Regions from separate parts of the Homo sapiens genome. Here region 2 is linked to region 1. The links come from fine-mapping of genetic effects on gene expression. A gene starts in region 1. The other region holds a variant in brackets. All regions are shown on one strand. Distances are from middle to middle. Region 1 holds the start of GRIN2D (glutamate ionotropic receptor NMDA type subunit 2D). Region 2 overlaps GRIN2D (glutamate ionotropic receptor NMDA type subunit 2D).

Region 1 (8,000 bases):
GCTGGGGGTGGGCTGCATGGGCAATAAACTAAGGCAGGGCGCCCGGGACCAGCCTGGAGGCAGCTCTGGAGTGCAGCTGTCCCCGGAGGCCTCCCCAGCCCGCCCCGCCTGAGCAGGGCCCTTTCCCACGGACCACAGCCAGGGGGCAGCCCAGGCCCCCGAAGCTACTCCAGCCCGAGGCTCCGTCCCAGACTAGGCCTCATGGCTACCCCTGGCCCCTCAGGGTCCTCCCGCAGTCTGGACCTGAGGTGAGGCCTAGGGAGGACCTTCCCTGACCTCAGGCCCCGGATCCGGTCACCTCCCTCCCGTTCCCTTCCTGGCCGCCACGGTCCACGTCACCAACTCACAGCCACCTCCCCGCCTGCCATGGTTCCCTGTTCCCGGTCCATGAACCCTCGGGCTGCCCAGATTGGGGCTGGGGGTGGCTGAATTGGGGGCCTAAAGCCATTCACATGAAACTGTATGCACCCCCGCCAGTCTGGGGAAGGGAGCTGATCCCCTGGAGACCCAGAACCTAGAAGAGAGATCCCCAGCAAGCAGTGGGGGTGGAACCTGTGCCCCTAGTGCCCCCAAACCCTTCCTGAGTCCTGCGACGTCCCCCAACCCCCGCCCGCAATCTCTCTCCTTCGCCAGCCCTGGTGGGCCTCTCACCGGCGCACGAGCGGGACTTCCAGATTTTGAGCAGTAGCAAGATGATGGCGAGGAGGTGGGAGAGGTCTCCCAGGAATCGGAAGAGATTCATGGCTGGGGAACCCTGGCAGGGCTGAGCGGGAGGGAGGCAGGCTGGCGGGGGGGTGCCCCCCGAGGCTGCTGGTCTGAACGGGTAGCTGGGCTGGGGGGACGGAAGAGGGACCCTAGGTGCGCTCCGCTCCGGGGAGGGGACTTTGGGAGGGGGAGCAAAGGCTGGAGCTGGCGGCGGAGCTGGAGCCGGGAAGAGGGAGGAGAGCGAGAGGGGGAGGAGTCCGGGAGGAGAGGCTCCGCCCCCGAGGGCGGGGCCTGGATCCCCGGCGCCCCCTATCGCCCACCTCCTGCTTTGCCGTGGCGGCGCTAAACGCACCCCCAAAGCTGCCCCATAGGAACTTGGGAGGGTCGCAGGGTTCGGAAAGTGCCAAATCCAGCACCGGTTCGCCCAGGCAGTCTGTGTCTCTGGAAGAGACGCAGTCCAGTACACCAGCCTCAGCCCTTGCAGGGATGTAGAGACTGCCCTCTGAGCTTGAAAAATCCTGCAGGGACCCGGAGGCTCAGCTGCTAGCTTTTGCAGCTTTCAGGCACTCTAACTCCAATCCCCCAGAAGACAAGAAAGATACCCCACCTACTTCCTCCCCTAGACCCAGGACTCAAGGCCCCAGCCCGTTCGTCAAACCCAGAAGTCTGGGTCCCCAGCCCCTCCTCCCTCAGACCCAGGAGTCCAGACCCCCAGCCTCTCCTCCCTCAGACCCAGAAGTCCAGACCCCCAGCCCCTCCTCCCTCAGATCCAGGAGTCCAGGCCCAGCTCCTCCTCGCTCAGACCCAGGAGTCCAGGCCCCCAGCCTCCTCCCTCAGACCCAGGAGTCCAGGCCCCCAGCCTCCTCCCTCAGACCCAGGACTCCAGGCCCCCAGACCCTCCTCCCCCAGATCCAGGAGTCCAGGCCCCCAGCCCTTCCTCCCTCAGACCCAGGAGTCCAGACCCCCAGCACCTCCTCCCTCAGACCCAGGAGTCCAGATCCCCAGCCCCTCCTCCCTCAGACCCAGGGGTCCAGGGCCCCAGCCCCTCCTCCCTCAGACCCAGGGGTCCAGGGCCCCAGCCCCTCCTCCCTCAGACCCAGGGGTCCAGGGCCCCAGCCCCTCCTCCCTCAGACCCAGGAGTTCAGGGCCCCAGCCCTTTTCCCTCCTAGGACGCTGTTCCTTGGAACTTAGGGTCCCACCCCCACCATCTTATGGATCAAACATCCTAACCTTAAGAATCTAGATCTACAGTTTCTCCCTTTACGACCCACAGATTTAGGCCCTGATTCTCTTCTTTTTCAGGAATGTGCACCTCACCCTGTTCTCCCAGACCTTGAGGATGAAGGAAACAGGAGCCTCACCCAGGAGGCTCAAGGCCAAAACTCTGACCCAAACTACCTCAGGAGCCCCTGGCCCTGGCTTCCCCCCTGCTCCAGAGTTTCTGCCCTGCCCACACACACACACCCTCTTCCACCCTCAGAGGCCCCGGTGTCCTGCCCCACGCTCTACCCCAGAGCCCCACGGGTGGCTTTATAAAAGTGCCGGGCCCAGCCCTCTAGCAGGAGGGGAATGCTGGGCATCTGGGTGTGGGACCCCCGGGGAACAGCCTGTGGTCTGGACTCCTGCATCTATGAGGGGACAGACGTGGCTTCCCTTCCGGATGATGGGGTACCCACAGATGATGGAGGCCAGGGTCCCTCAATAAAAGAAGGGGTGCAGGCGTGTTGATTTCTTCAGAGGGCTGGAAGGACGGGGTGCCCAAGGGTGACATCCACGAGTCTTGGGTCCCTGAGGGTGGCTTGTACGGGGGAGAGTCGGGATGACTGAGTCCTTAAAAGAGACTCCGACTTGGAGGCGGTCCCCAAATTCCTGGGTCCCAGTAGAGAAGGGGACTCCTGGGTCTGAGGGAGGAGGGGCTGGGGGGTGGGACTCCTGGGACCAGGGTCGAGACCTGGTTTTCAGGCCTGGCCTTCTGGGGCAATAAAAGCCACAGCTTGGGTCTTAGTGTGGCGAACACTGAAGTCAGGGAAAGGCCTCCTGTTTCCAGAGCCTCAAGGCAGGGCGGGGGCAGAGGGCAGCAACCCCCAGCCCTGGAGTCTAGCTCTGAAGCTGGTGTCTCCATACCGGGTTCTGAGTCCCTGCCTGCCTGTCCCCAGCCTGACTTCTTCCTCCCTTTTTATTTTCAGCCCCTCACTCCCTTGTCCCAGGAGGAAGGCAGAGGCTGGTAGCTAGGGGTGGGGGGCGGCCCCCTCCCCAAGCCTGGCAGGAGAAGGGGTCCCCAGGGAGGCCAGGAGGGGGGGCTGTGGGTCTCCCGGCAGTGGCAGACGGGGACTGAATGTTAATCGCATCCCGAGTGAGTGTGTGTGTGCGAGAACACAGCGAGTGTGTGAGTCCCTCCCGCTCCAGCTCCTCCAAGCCGCGGCCGCCGCCGCCACCCTCGCCCGCAGCCTCCCGCAGCCTCCCTCGGCCACCGGTGCCTGCTGGGGGTGTTGCCTGGGTAGGTCGGCCCGGCCCCCAGGGGTCTCTCGAGCGTCTGCCATCTGCCCGGTGAGGATCTGTGTGTCCGGGTGTCTGGGGCTGGCTGGTGGAGGGGGGGTGTGTCTGTAAGCGCTGCGGCGGCGGAGGGAGGGAGGGGTCTGTCTGTCTGTACCGACCCTGAGCTGCCTGCCTGGGTGTCGTGGGGCTCCCGCTCCTTCCCCCCGGCCCCCCCAAACCCAGATGGATGGTGTGTACCTGGGTTCTGTGCCTCCTGCCTGCGTCCGGCCAGGCGTCTGGGCGTCCCCGGCTGCCTGTGTCCTCCTGTCTGTCCAAACAGCCCCTATCAGCAGTGGCAGCCTGGCCCCCATTAGACCCCCCACTCTGTGTGTGTGTGTCTGTGTGTGTGTCCCTCCTCAAGCTCTGGGGGTGTTGAGGGGGAATCCCAGGGAAGTGAGATCGTGCGTGTGTGCGTGAGTGTATGTGTGTTTCTGCCTGTGTTTGAGAGTGGGGGAGTCAAGGGGGGGTCTAGAGGTGGCCAAGCGAGGAAGGGGCAAGCAGTTCCCCAAGCAGGCAATCTCCCGCTCCTCACACGCACACACCAGCCACTAGCTTCAGAGGTGACCCAGACAGACAGATAGACACAGACGCTGGAAGGGGGGGTGGGGGGGCTGAGGGCACAAAGCGGGGGTGCGAGTGAGCCAGGGAGAGGCGGGACTGGACACATGGAAAGGGGGGAGGAGCCGGGGCTGAAGCGGCAGAGGGGGGCACCCCGGGTGGGCGGAGGGGGGATCCCCACGGGGTCGGGGCGGCAAGAGGACACCCCGACAGCCTCTGCAATGTCCGGGGCCCAACTTCCAGAGCAACATGTGTAGCCACGTCCTCGCCTAGTCCAGGTGGCCGCAACCTTGGGGGAGAGACAGGGCAGGACAGGACCAAGGAAGAGGAAGGAGAGACGGAGCCAGGGACAGACAGGAGGTCCGGGCTGCCGCTGCTGCCGCCACCACCACTGCCGCCGCCCCGGGGCCTGCCCCCCGACATCGGCTCTCTGAGCCCTCCTCGGAATCTTGGGGTCGCTGGACGCCGGGTTCCGGTCCTGGCCCCCCCGCCATCCCCCCAACAGAACAGGGTCATGAAAAGGTAAGGCGGGGACAGGGGATGCAGGGATGGTGGTGGGAATGTGGACCCCCAAATCTAGGACAGAGGAAGTTGGCAAGAAGCCTCGTGGAGGGAGGGGGTTTGAACGGTGGGCAGGGGTCTTGACCCCCACCTAGCTCCCCTGTCCCTCAGGGACTCTCCTCCACCCTCTCTCTCTCCCTCTCTGAGCCCCTTTTTCCTGAGTCCCTACACCTCAGACCTTTCACGCCCCCATTTCTCTGACACTTGGCTCCCTCTCCCCATCCCCACATACCTGATGCCCCATATCCCTGTGCCTCCATCTCTCTATCTCACCTTCTCCCTGTACCCCCCTCCCTGCATCAGTCCCCCCATCGCGAGCCGGTCCTCTCCCTCTCTCCTCTCGCTCTCCCCTCCCATGTCAGAGCTATGAGTCTGCTATTAATACCCCCGCCAAGGACCTTGAGGGCATCCAGGCCCCCAGCACCCCTCGCCCCAAGCTCCCACCCCTTCCTCAAGGTTCTGGAACACCCTTCCAGCCTCTTCCAAGCATCAGGATTCGGGTGGGGAGAGACCGATGTTGTGTGTGTGTGTTGGGAGGTGAGGGGGGAGGAAACGGGATGCCGTCTGCAGCACAACTCGAGGTTGTGGGGGGAGCTGTTGATCGAAGTGGCCGCTCCTCTCTTCTCTGTTGGATGCTGTGGGGGGCAATGAAGACAGGGACACCCTAGGAATTTCTGGCACCCTCCTCCTCCTCCCCGCTTGGGGACAGGCTGTGCTATGTACAGGATCTAAGTGGGGTGACTAGGGAGGCCAGAGCTCGGTGGGGGGGCACCCAGGATGTTGGGAAGGATAGGGTTTGAAACCAAAAGGGGATCCTTAAGGGAGGACAGGAGCCGGAACCCGGACTCCTGGGTCCTTGGGGGAAGAGGGGAGCTGGGGACCTGGACTCTTGGTTCCTGCAGGGAGAGGAGGCTGGGCACTGGAGTTCCAGAGTCTTGGGGCAGGAGGGGCCTGGCCTCCTGGGTCCTGGGAAAGAACAGGACCGAATGCCCAGACTCCCAAGGCCTGGGGGAGGAAGGGGCTGCCAGAAGGACTCCTGGGTCTTTACGGGAGGAGGTAGGGGATAGCGCTTCCGTCTGAGGAAGGCAGGCTGGGAGCTCAGTCTCCTGAGTCCCTGACAGGGCAGGAGATGAGTGTTGGGGACTTTAGCCCTATGCAGATGGAAGTGGAAACGGAGGCTCATGAGGAGGTAGAGATGGAGGCGGGGGGAGCGGGGGGTTGTCCAGAGGCTGGACTCTGTGATCCCTGAGGGCGTGGGTTCTGGGGGTTGGGCCTTCAGAGTCCTGGAGGACTGGGGATGCCCCTCCTCAGGCCCTGGAGTGGGGGAGGCTGCTCTCCCTAATCCCTGTGGTTAGGAACTGAGCATGCAGCCCCCGTGAGAAGGGTGGGGCCGGGGGCTGCCCTCCTGGGCCTCAGTAGGGAGTGGGACGCGGGGTCCCTAAGAGCAGAAGCCAGGTAGGGGTGGGTCTGGGAGAGGCAGAGGAGGGGCTGGAGGGTGAGCAGCCACTGGGAATGGAGGGGAGCGTGAGTGTTAACCCCGCGGGGGCCAGGCCACAGCTGTGGGTTATTTTGGGGCGGAGTGGGGGGGTTATTCTGAGCGCTGATTGAGCCAGCTGCTTGGGGAAGGGCAATGGAAAGGAGGAGCGAAGAGAAGCCAGGATCGGGGAGGGATGGGCATACTAGGAGCCCCCAACCCCTTCCCTGGGGAGACAGGGGCCCGAGATCTCTGGGAAGGTGAGGTGGTGGGCAGAGGGGACGGGCTGTGGCCTCGAGGCAGGGGAGGGGTGGTGGACCTTTCCCCCGCCCTGGCTGTCTGTGGGGTGGACGAGGCCTGCGCTACCATGGCAACCAGACAGGAGCATGACAGCCAGGAGAGAACCCTTCCTTGTCTGGACCCTCACCCCTTCTGGAAGCCCCTAGTGCGGACTCCAGTCCTTCTCTGGGAACCAGGAGTCCAGACTCCCAGTGCCCTCCTCCCTCAGTCCCAGGCAGGACCCAGGAGCCTGGCTCCCAGCCCAACCACCCCAGGCGGCTAGTATTCAACAGGGGGCACAGGAAGAGAGGCTGTATTTCCTCTAATTTACCAAATTGCTCTGGGCTGGGTGCCAGGGACCCCCACACCCACCCCACCCAGCTCTCCACAGCTGTGCCCCCCAACCCCACATCCCAGATGGGGCCATGACTCCCTTGCTTTGAGAATGAGGGGATGGGGACAGGACTAAGGGGACAAAATGGGTTAGGGGTTGTGGTCAGGGTGAGGAGTAAGGTCATGTGGGGATTTTCTCTCCTTGGGGTGCCCCACTAATTTCTCTCTTTCTCTCCCCACACACCTGACCCCTTTTCCCTCTCATTTTTTCTCTCCCTTTTCCTCCCTTTTATTTCTGCTCCCTCCTGCCACTCGCCTTCCCCGCCTTACTTTCATGTCTGTACTGGGCACCTCCCTGGTGGGGGTCCCGATCTTGGCCTTGCTTCGCTATTTCTGTCCTCCTGTTTTCGCTCCGCTCTGCCTGCCTCCCTCAATCTCAATTGTTTCCCCATCCTTTATGTGCGCGTGTCTCTTGGTGGCCTTGGGGTCTCTGTCTCCCTCTTCCTGCCTTGCTGTCTTCTTCTCTGTCCAACTTTCTTGCCTCGCTTATCTCTCCCGCCTTCCTGCATCTCTTCCCGCCTCTATCATCCTCTCCCTGGGCCTCCCTCATTCCTGTTTCTGTCACTCCGTCCTCTCTCTCTCCGTCTTCTCCCCGTCTCTGCTGCTTCCGTCTCTCTCCTTCTTCCTGCCGCTCTTTCCCTCCCCGTCTCCCTGGGCCTCTCTCTGCTCCTATCTTGATCCCATCTCTGTGGGTGTCCCCATCCCCACCTTGTCTATCTTCCTCTCTCTCCCCTCTTACCTCTGTATCTTCCCCTGACCCCATTATCCACCCTCGTCTTTGCGTCTCCCCCAATCCCATACTCCACTTCTTCCTATCTCTGTCTCGCCCTATCTCTGCGTCTCTCCCTGTTTCACCTCTTCCTCTGGTGTTTCTTCCCCACCTCTCCCTTCCACCTCCCTCTGCTGTGTCTGTCTCTCCCTCTGTCTCTGCCTGTCTCTCCTCCATCTCTCTCTCTCCGTCTCCCCCTCTCTCTCCCCTCCATCTCTCTCTACCTCTGCCCGTCTCTCCCTCTGTCTCTCCTCCATTTCTCTCTCCCTCTGTCTCTCTCCCTTCCATCTCTCTCGTCCTCCGTTCCTGTCTCTCCCTCTGTTCCATCACCCCGACCGCTCCCTGTCCTCCCCATCTCGGCGCCTGTCCCTCGCTGCATCTCCTCCTCTGTGCGTCTCTTTATCTCGTCTCCCTGTCCCTGCGTCTCCCGTCTGTGCCTCCCTCTCCTCCCCGTCTCTCCCGGCCCGGGCGCTCAGAGGCCGCCCGGCGGGGCCCGCAGGCGATGCGCGGCGCCGGTGGCCCCCGCGGCCCTCGGGGCCCCGCTAAGATGCTGCTGCTGCTGGCGCTGGCCTGCGCCAGCCCGTTCCCGGAGGAGGCGCCGGGGCCGGGCGGGGCCGGTGGGCCCGGCGGCGGCCTCGGCGGGGCGCGGCCGCTCAACGTGGCGCTCGTGTTCTCGGGGCCCGCGTACGCGGCCGAGGCGGCACGCCTGGGCCCGGCCGTGGCGGC
Region 2 (8,000 bases), 26 kb after region 1:
CTGGGACAGGGAGCTAGCCCTAGGCAAAGTAGCCGTCCCCAACCGTGTGGGCCCTGGGATCAGAAAACCTGGGTTCCCGGTATCATCGGTACTTGAACCCGCTGTGCAACTTCGGTGAAGTGACATCATTTCTGAACCTCAGTTTCCTAATCTACAAGATGGAAGAAATAATTTCCCTACCCAGAAGACATTTCATCAAGAGGCTAAAGAAGCTTGAGCTCAGGAGCCTTCTCTTGCACTGCAGCTTCCAAGCCCTGCACCTGGTTTTGTATTCATAAGGTTGAATTATTTTTTCTCAAAGAGAGCCCTCCAAATTGTGCAAGCTTCAGGCCCCACAAAACCCAAGTGTTTTCCTGTACTAGGTATGAGATGAAGAGAACAAATTAGCATGGTACCAATACCTTGTAAGCACTTAAGTCACCATCAGTGTTTACTGAGCATCTACTATGTGCCAGGTGGTGGGCTCCACACTGGGAACACAGTGGCAAATGAGGAAGACACAAATCCCTGTCCAGTAGGATCTCTCAGCCTTGTGAAGGAGGCAGAAGATAAGCTTCTACTTCTCTCTCTCTCTCTCTTTTTTTTTTTTTCAGACAGAGTCTCACTCTGTCGCCCAGGCTGGAATGCAGTGGCACCATCTCGGCTCACTGCAACCTCAACCTGCCTCTCAGGTTTAAGCGATTCTCCTGCCTCAGCCTGCCAAGTAACTGGGATCACAGGCATGCACCACCACGCCTGGCCAATTTTTGTATTTTTAGTAGAGACGGGGTTTCACCATGGTGGCCAGCCTAATCTCAAACTCCTGACCTCAGGTGATCTGCCCACCTCAGCCTCCCAAAATGCTGGAATTACAGGCGTGAGCCACTGCACCCGGACAAGGGTTTTAACTACAGAAGATGGTGTGGGGATATATAATCAGATTTAAGTTTTTAAAATATCCAGCTCTGTGTAATCCCAGCTACTCCGGAGGCTGAGGTGTAAGGATGGCTTGAACCCAGGAGGCAGAGGTTGCAGTGAGCCAAGATGGCACCACCGCACTCCAGCCTGGATGACAGAGCCAGACCCTATCTCTAAAAAAGAACAAAGAAAAAAATCCCACTCTGTGGAAGCAAGTGGCTGGTGGGGATGCTACTGCAAGGTTTATGCCAGAGACAGAGTGGGGGTGTGCAATAGGAAGGTGACAGCAGACAGATGCAGGGTGTGGTTAGAGAGCTGCCCACCAGATGGGCTGGTGGCTTTGAGATGGATTGGGTAGAGGGACCATTGCTGAGCTGGAGAAGCGTACATCGGCCAAGGGCAACAGTGCTTGTCAGTTCCCACTTGCTCTCTGAAGTGTGAGCAAAGCTCCTGGGAGAGGGGAGGGGCTGGAAGAAGAGCCATCCCTTCCTTTGTGTTTTGTTTTCTGTTTATTTCGCCCAGTGGTGTCTCCTGTGGCCTCCCCTTTGCACCAAGGTCTCTGCAGGGCACACTGAGAAGCACCACGTGGGGCCCCTGCTTGCAGGCAGCACACTGCAGAGGAGTGACAAGGTCCTATTTATGCCCCACCAAGTTGCCCAGCAGAGGTGACAGGCGTGTCCCCAGCTGCCGCAGTGACAGTCCAGGGTGCTGACCTTGCTGTGACGGGGGCAGTCCTGACAGCTCACACTTGGCCCTGGAAAGTTGAATCACCTGGTCCTAATCTCAATGAAATGGTGATTTGGGTTTATTGTTGGTGAGCTCCCAGGGGCTAAACACAGTTATCGAATGTGAGGAGGGGACACATGAATGGGAGGTTGTCTAATGGACAGGGCAGGGTGTTAACTCTAGCAGGGACACCTAGGAGACAAGGAAGAGAGGGTGTCGCTGATTCAGGCACCTGCGAGTTCTTTTTTTTTTTTTTTTTTGAGACAGAGTCTTGCTCTGTCACCCAGGCTGGAGTGCAGTGGCACGATCTCAGCTCACTGCAACCTCCACCTCCTGGGTTCAAGCAATTCTCCTGCCTCAGCCTACTGAGTAGTTGGGACTACAGGCGCCCACCACGACACCCAGCTAATTTTGTATTTTTAGTAGAGATGGGGTTTCACCATGTTGGCCAGGCTGGTCTTGAACTCCTGACCTTAGGTGATCCTCCCACCTCGGCCTCCCAAAGTACTGGGATTACAGGCGTGAACCACCACACCCAGCCACCTGTGAGTTTTGAGTAAAGCATGGGTGCTTGAGAGAGTGATCAGGACAGAAAGGAGAGTGTGACAAGGCTGAGTGGCAGGGACTTTGTCCTGGGGGTGCTAGGGAGCCTGGGGAGGGCTGTAAGCAGGGGAGGGGCCAGGTCCTCTCTGTGCTGTGTGGGGGATAGGCTGTAGGGGACAGACAGGAGCTCAGGAGGCTGGGGAAATGGTTGGTGGGAGGAGATGAGGCCTGAGCCCTGTTGGCCATGAGAATGGAGAGGAGAGGCCCAAGTAGCATCAGGGGCAGGAGCGTGGGGCTGGATACTGACAGGCTGTGGCCAGCGAGGGAGAAGGAGGGAGGAAGGGAGGACGGCAAATGAGGTTTGGGCCTGTGACTGGGTGGATGGTGGGGCTCCCATCATGAGGAGCGTGGGAGCTGGTCTGGGCTCAGCATGGGACATGATGAATGGCCTGAGGAGATGGCTGGGGTAGGTGGAGGCTTGGGCCTGTGACTCAGGAAACATTTAGGAGACAGTTTCTATTTGGTGGCTGAAACCACAGAAATGCCTGCGACGGCTCTCTTTGAGAATGGCTGCCTCCTAGGGGTATGGGTGTGCCATAAGACTATCTTGGAGATGGAGAAGCAGAGATAGGGCCAGAATAGGATGGGGTCAGATCTGGGCTGCACCTTGTTCCCTGCTGGTAGTACCCTAGGGTTTTTTTTCTTTCTTTTTTCTTCCTTTTTTTTTTTTGTAGAGACAGGGAGTTCAAGGCCAGTCTGGTCTTGAACTCCAGGCGTCAAGTGATCCTCCTGCCTCAGCCTCCCAAAGTTCTGGGAGTACAGGCGTGAGGCACCGCCCCAGCCTGATCCCCGAGTCTTTTGCTTGGCTGAGCCATAACCACGCACTCCCTTGTCCCCAGAGCCCTACAGCCCCGCCGTGTGGGTGATGATGTTCGTCATGTGCCTCACTGTGGTCGCCGTCACTGTTTTCATCTTCGAGTACCTCAGTCCTGTTGGTTACAACCGCAGCCTGGCCACGGGCAAGCGTGAGTCCCCCTTCCTCCATCCCCCGCCTCGGAGATCCCGAACCACAGAGACAGAGAACTACATTTCCCAGCAGCCCCTGGAGGGGGGGCGGTCAAGCTAGGGCCTCTCGGGAGGTGCCAGATGCCTTGAGGGCCACTGGGAATTGTAGTTCTTTCTTTTTTTTTTTTTCCCTTCCTTATTGAGAAGGGATTTGGGGTCCATGTCCACGTCCTGGCCCCCTGCAGGCCCTGGCGGTTCAACCTTCACCATTGGGAAATCCATCTGGCTGCTCTGGGCCCTGGTGTTCAATAATTCGGTGCCCGTGGAGAACCCCCGGGGAACCACCAGCAAAATCATGGTGCTGGTGTGGGCCTTCTTCGCCGTCATCTTCCTCGCCAGCTACACAGCCAACCTGGCCGCCTTCATGATCCAGGAGGAGTACGTGGATACTGTGTCTGGGCTCAGTGACCGCAAGGTGTGTGTGGGCCCAGGGCTGGGCTGGAG[C/A]TGGGGCTGGGGCTGGAGGTCACAGAGCTTGTCATGTGGTAGATTAGAGGGGATTCTTGCGGGGGGCGGGGGTGAGAGGGGTGGGGGGAGGGCGGGAAGGGGTCTCTTCCCAAGGAGAATTCCAGAATGGTAGAATGGAATGTTGTGGATGAAGAAAGAACACGGTTCACGATGAGCTATTTAAAATATTCCTAGGGAAGAGGGTGTCCCTGAATGTTCTAGGGGCAGTTGTGTCAAATAGGATATTCTAGAACCAGTGCTTCTCTCAAACTGTGAGGAAGGATTAATTTTTGAAACTTCTAAGGCTGGGCGCGGTGGCTCACACCTGTAATCCCAGCACGTTGGGAGGCCGAGGCGGGCGGATCACGAGGTCAGGAGATCGAGACCATCCTGGCTAACACGGTGAAACCCCGTCTCTTCTAAAAGTACATAAAATTAGCCGGGCGTGGTGACAGGCACCTGTAGTCCCAGCTACCCGGGAGGCTGAGGCAGGAGAATGGCGTGAACCCAGGAGGCAGAGCTTGCAGTGAGCCGAGATCGCCCCACTGCACTCCAGCCAGCGCGACAGAGTTAGACTCTGTCTCAAAAAAACAAAAAACTGCTAGTCCATTGCAGACAATGCTTTTGTAAAATTCAACGGAAATGAATTATTAGAAAAGTAAAATAAGATCTAAAACCAAGACAGACAAAAGTCAAACCTGGCCAGGAACGGTGGCTCACGCCTGTAATCCCAGCACTTTGGGAGGCCGAGGTGGGTGGATCACCTGAGGTCAGGAGTTCGAGACCAGCCTGGCCAACATAGTGAAACCTCGTCTCTAATAAAAATACAAAAATTAGCCAGGCGTGGTAGTGGGTGCCTGTAGTCCCAGCTACTTGGGAGGCTGAGGCAGGAGAATCGCTTGAACCCGGGAGGCGGAGGTTACAGTGAGCCATGATTACGCCACAAATAGAACTGATTCCTAGCCTGGGTGACAGAGCGAGACTCTGCCTAAAAAAAAGCCAAACTCACATTTTTATTTATTAGATTCAACAGACGAAAAAGAATTCTGTCAAATCACTCTAAATGCTCACTCTCTCCATTCCTGTACACATCTCACTGCAATCACCGTTTGTTGAGGGACTGGTGGTTTGCAGAGCATACTTTGAGACTAAAGTGATTAACTAGCTGGGTGTCATGACCTATTAGAGGCTTGAGAAATCAGTTTGATGGGTTGCAATAAGCATTTTTTAATGGAATGGAGTAGAATAGAATAGTTGCCTGCATCTTATGTATAAGTTTGGTTTTACAAAACTTGTTTTAGTTGTCTGGGCGCGGTGGCTTATGCCTGTAATCCCAGCACTTTGGGAGGCCAAGGCGGGCGGATCACCTGAGGTTGGTAGTTCGAGACCAGCCTGACCAACATGGAGAAACCCCATCTCTACTAAAAATACAAAACTGGCTGGGCATGGTGGTATGTGCCTGTAATCCCAGCTACTCGGGAGGCTGAGGCAGGAGAATCAGTTGAACCTGGGAGGCGGAGGTTGCAGTGAGCTGACAGTGTGCCATTGCACTCCAGCCTGGGCAACAAGAGCAAGACTCCGTTTAAAAAAAAAAAAGTGAACTATTTCTGAACGGATTGGTAAATAGCAACAGCTCCCAGCTCCTGCCATGCCAGCCTCTACTCCCAGGACCTCCCGCGATTCAGTAAGTGAAGACTTAACACCTGGCACATCAGGGGCCTCAGGGAGGCTTCTCGTGAACTTTTGGATCACGTGTCTGCAACCGTGTGTGCTGGGTGGGAGTGGAAAAGCATTCCCTAATGTAGTGAGCGAGTGTTGAGAAATATTGAACACTCCTGGGACTGGGGTGTCTGCCAGATAGCGGGTGTGTCTCAGAATGGGTGATTTATGTTAGGGATGTCCCTGCGGAGGGTGCCCTAATCACTCCCCATTCTGCCCCAGTTCCAGAGGCCCCAGGAGCAGTACCCGCCCCTGAAGTTTGGGACCGTGCCCAACGGCTCCACGGAGAAGAACATCCGCAGCAACTATCCCGACATGCACAGCTACATGGTGCGCTACAACCAGCCCCGCGTAGAGGAAGCGCTCACTCAGCTCAAGGCAGGGTCAGCGCAGACTCGGGCCGGGGGTGGGGGTTGGGCCGCTGGGGACCTGAGGATGCTCAAAGATGGCAAGGGGTCCAGGTTCATTCATTCAGTCCCAGAGGTCAGCCCTGGGTGGGTCAGCTTGGAGGGCGGAGGTCACTGAGGGTGGAAGTGGACTCCTCCTCCCAGGAGCAGGCTCCTTGGGATATTTTCTGGGATGCAGTATTTCTGGATTCTGGGGTGAGACTGATGGGGCTCAAATCTTTGCTCTTCCCCTTCTTGGCTTTGTGACCTTGGGCAAGTTACTCAGCCTCTCTGAACCTCTGTTTCCTCCTCTGTAAAATGAGGATAACAAGAGTATCCCCACTGTAATGATCATAAGGTTGTTACAAGAATTATACTAGTAAGCCGGGCACGGTGGCTCATGCCTGTAATCCCAGCACTTTCAGAGGCCAAGGCAGGCGGATCACAAGGTCAGGAGATCGAGACCATCCTGGCCAACATGGTGAAACCTGGTCTCTACAAAAAATACAAAAATTAGCTGGGCGTGGTGGCACGCGCCTGTAGTCCCAGATACTTGGGAGGCTGAGGCAGGAGAATCGCTTGAACCTGGGAGTCGGAGGTTGCAGTGAGCCGAGATCATGCCACTGCACTCCAGCCTGGCGACAGAGCGAGACTCCGTCTCAAAAAAAAAAAAAAGAATTAAACTAGTTAGTCCACTCAGAACATTTATTTATTTATTTAGAACAGTGCCCGGTGCACTATAGGTGTTTGCTGATATTATCATTATCATTAGACCTGAACTCACTGGAATCAATGCTTAGATTGTGTTTCTTATCTTTTTACATCCCTTTCCCAAATCATAGGGATGAAGTTAAATTCAGAGGCCAGGCGCAGTAGCTCACGCCTATAATCCCAGCACTTTGTGAGGCGGAGACGGGCAGATCACTTCAGGTCAGGAGTTGGAGACCACCTGGCCAACATAGTGAAACCCCATCTCTACTTAAAATACAAAAATTAGGCTGGGTGCGGCAACAGGCTCTTGGGAGGCCGAGACGGGCAGATCATTTGAGGTCAGGAGTTTGAGAACAGCCTGGCCAACATGATGAAACCTTGTCTCTACTTAAAATACAAAAATTAGCCGGGCGTGGTGGCGGGCGCCTGTAATCTCAGCTGCTTGGGAGGCTGAGGCAGGAGGATCGCTTGAATGCAGGAGGCGGAGGTTGCAGTGAGCCGAGACTGTGCCATTGCACTCCAGCCTGGGCAACAGAGACAGACTCCGTCTCAAAAAGAAAACAATACAAAAAAAGTTGAGTTCAGGCCCCAAAGTGCAGCCCACGAATACAACAAGGCTGAGCACAGTAACTCTCTCCCCGTCCTGCATTTACTCAGTCCTTCCGTGTGCATTTTTCTTATCCTCTGCTGTACGCTAAGCGGTGAACAAATAGACCCGATTCCTAGGTCTAGAGGTGGGAAATGAACAATAAACATGCAAACAGAAAAATCAAGATCTCTTCAGAAAGTGATGGTGAGCTAGAGGGCGGCAGGGCTGGGATATTTTCACCAGGGTGTTCAGGGTGGGCTTCTCGGAGGAGGTGACATTTGTGCAGAGCCCTGCAGGAGGTGAAAGAGCTAGCCAGGTGGACTTCCGGAAGCAGAGCCTTCAGACGGAGGGAACAGAGTGTGCAAAGGGCCTGAGGAAGGTGCAGTGTTGGTTTACTGGAGGAACAGCAAGAAGGCCAGTGTGGTTGAAGGGCAAGGAGCTGAGGTGAGAGAGTAGATGAGGGGAGGATTCTGGGCATGAGGCCAAGGTCAGGGCTGGACTTTATGCTAAAGGCGGTGAGAAGCCTTGAGGTGTGGAGATTTTACGTAAGGAAGGGTATGATCTGATTTCTGTTTTTGTTTGTTTTGAGACAGGATCTCACTCTGTTGCCCAGGCTGGAGTGCAGTAGTTCGATCTCAGCTCACTGCAACCTCCGCCTTCCCTGGGTTCAAGCAATTCTCCCACCTCAGCCTCCTGAGTAGCTGGGATTACAGGCGTGCACTACTATGCCTGGCTAATTTTTGTATTTTTGGTAGAGATGAGGTTTCACCATGTTGGTCAGGCTGGTCTTGAACTCCTGACATGAGGTGATCTGCCTGCCTCAGCCTCCCAAAGTGCTGGGATTAGAGGCGTGAGCCACCATGCCTGGCTTAAAAAAATTTCTAATGCCCAATGCAGTGGCTCACACCTGTAATCCTAAA

Evidence for each region.
Region 2: its variant is fine-mapped to the expression of GRIN2D in visceral fat (GTEx, PIP 0.92).

What each region holds. Positions count from the first base shown.
Region 1 is chr19:48,390,617-48,398,616 of GRCh38, forward strand. It overlaps GRIN2D (glutamate ionotropic receptor NMDA type subunit 2D), which reads left to right and starts at 3,052. Exons shown (of 14, transcript NM_000836.4): 1 at 3,052-3,252; 2 at 4,042-4,320; 3 at 7,751-8,000. The coding sequence starts at 7,777. KDELR1 (KDEL endoplasmic reticulum protein retention receptor 1) reads right to left here and starts at 935. Exons shown (of 5, transcript NM_006801.3): 1 at 652-935. The coding sequence starts at 742. RefSeq lists silencers at 772-1,091, 5,440-5,623, 7,879-7,978.
Region 2 is chr19:48,416,169-48,424,168 of GRCh38, forward strand. It overlaps GRIN2D (glutamate ionotropic receptor NMDA type subunit 2D), which reads left to right. Exons shown (of 14, transcript NM_000836.4): 9 at 3,066-3,191; 10 at 3,417-3,646; 11 at 5,617-5,777. Among named protein-coding and RNA genes, the nearest start is that of GRWD1, 26 kb to the right of the region's middle. RefSeq lists enhancers at 2,499-3,265, 3,016-3,255, 3,316-3,555. The variant C/A (reference allele first, on the strand shown) is at 3,676.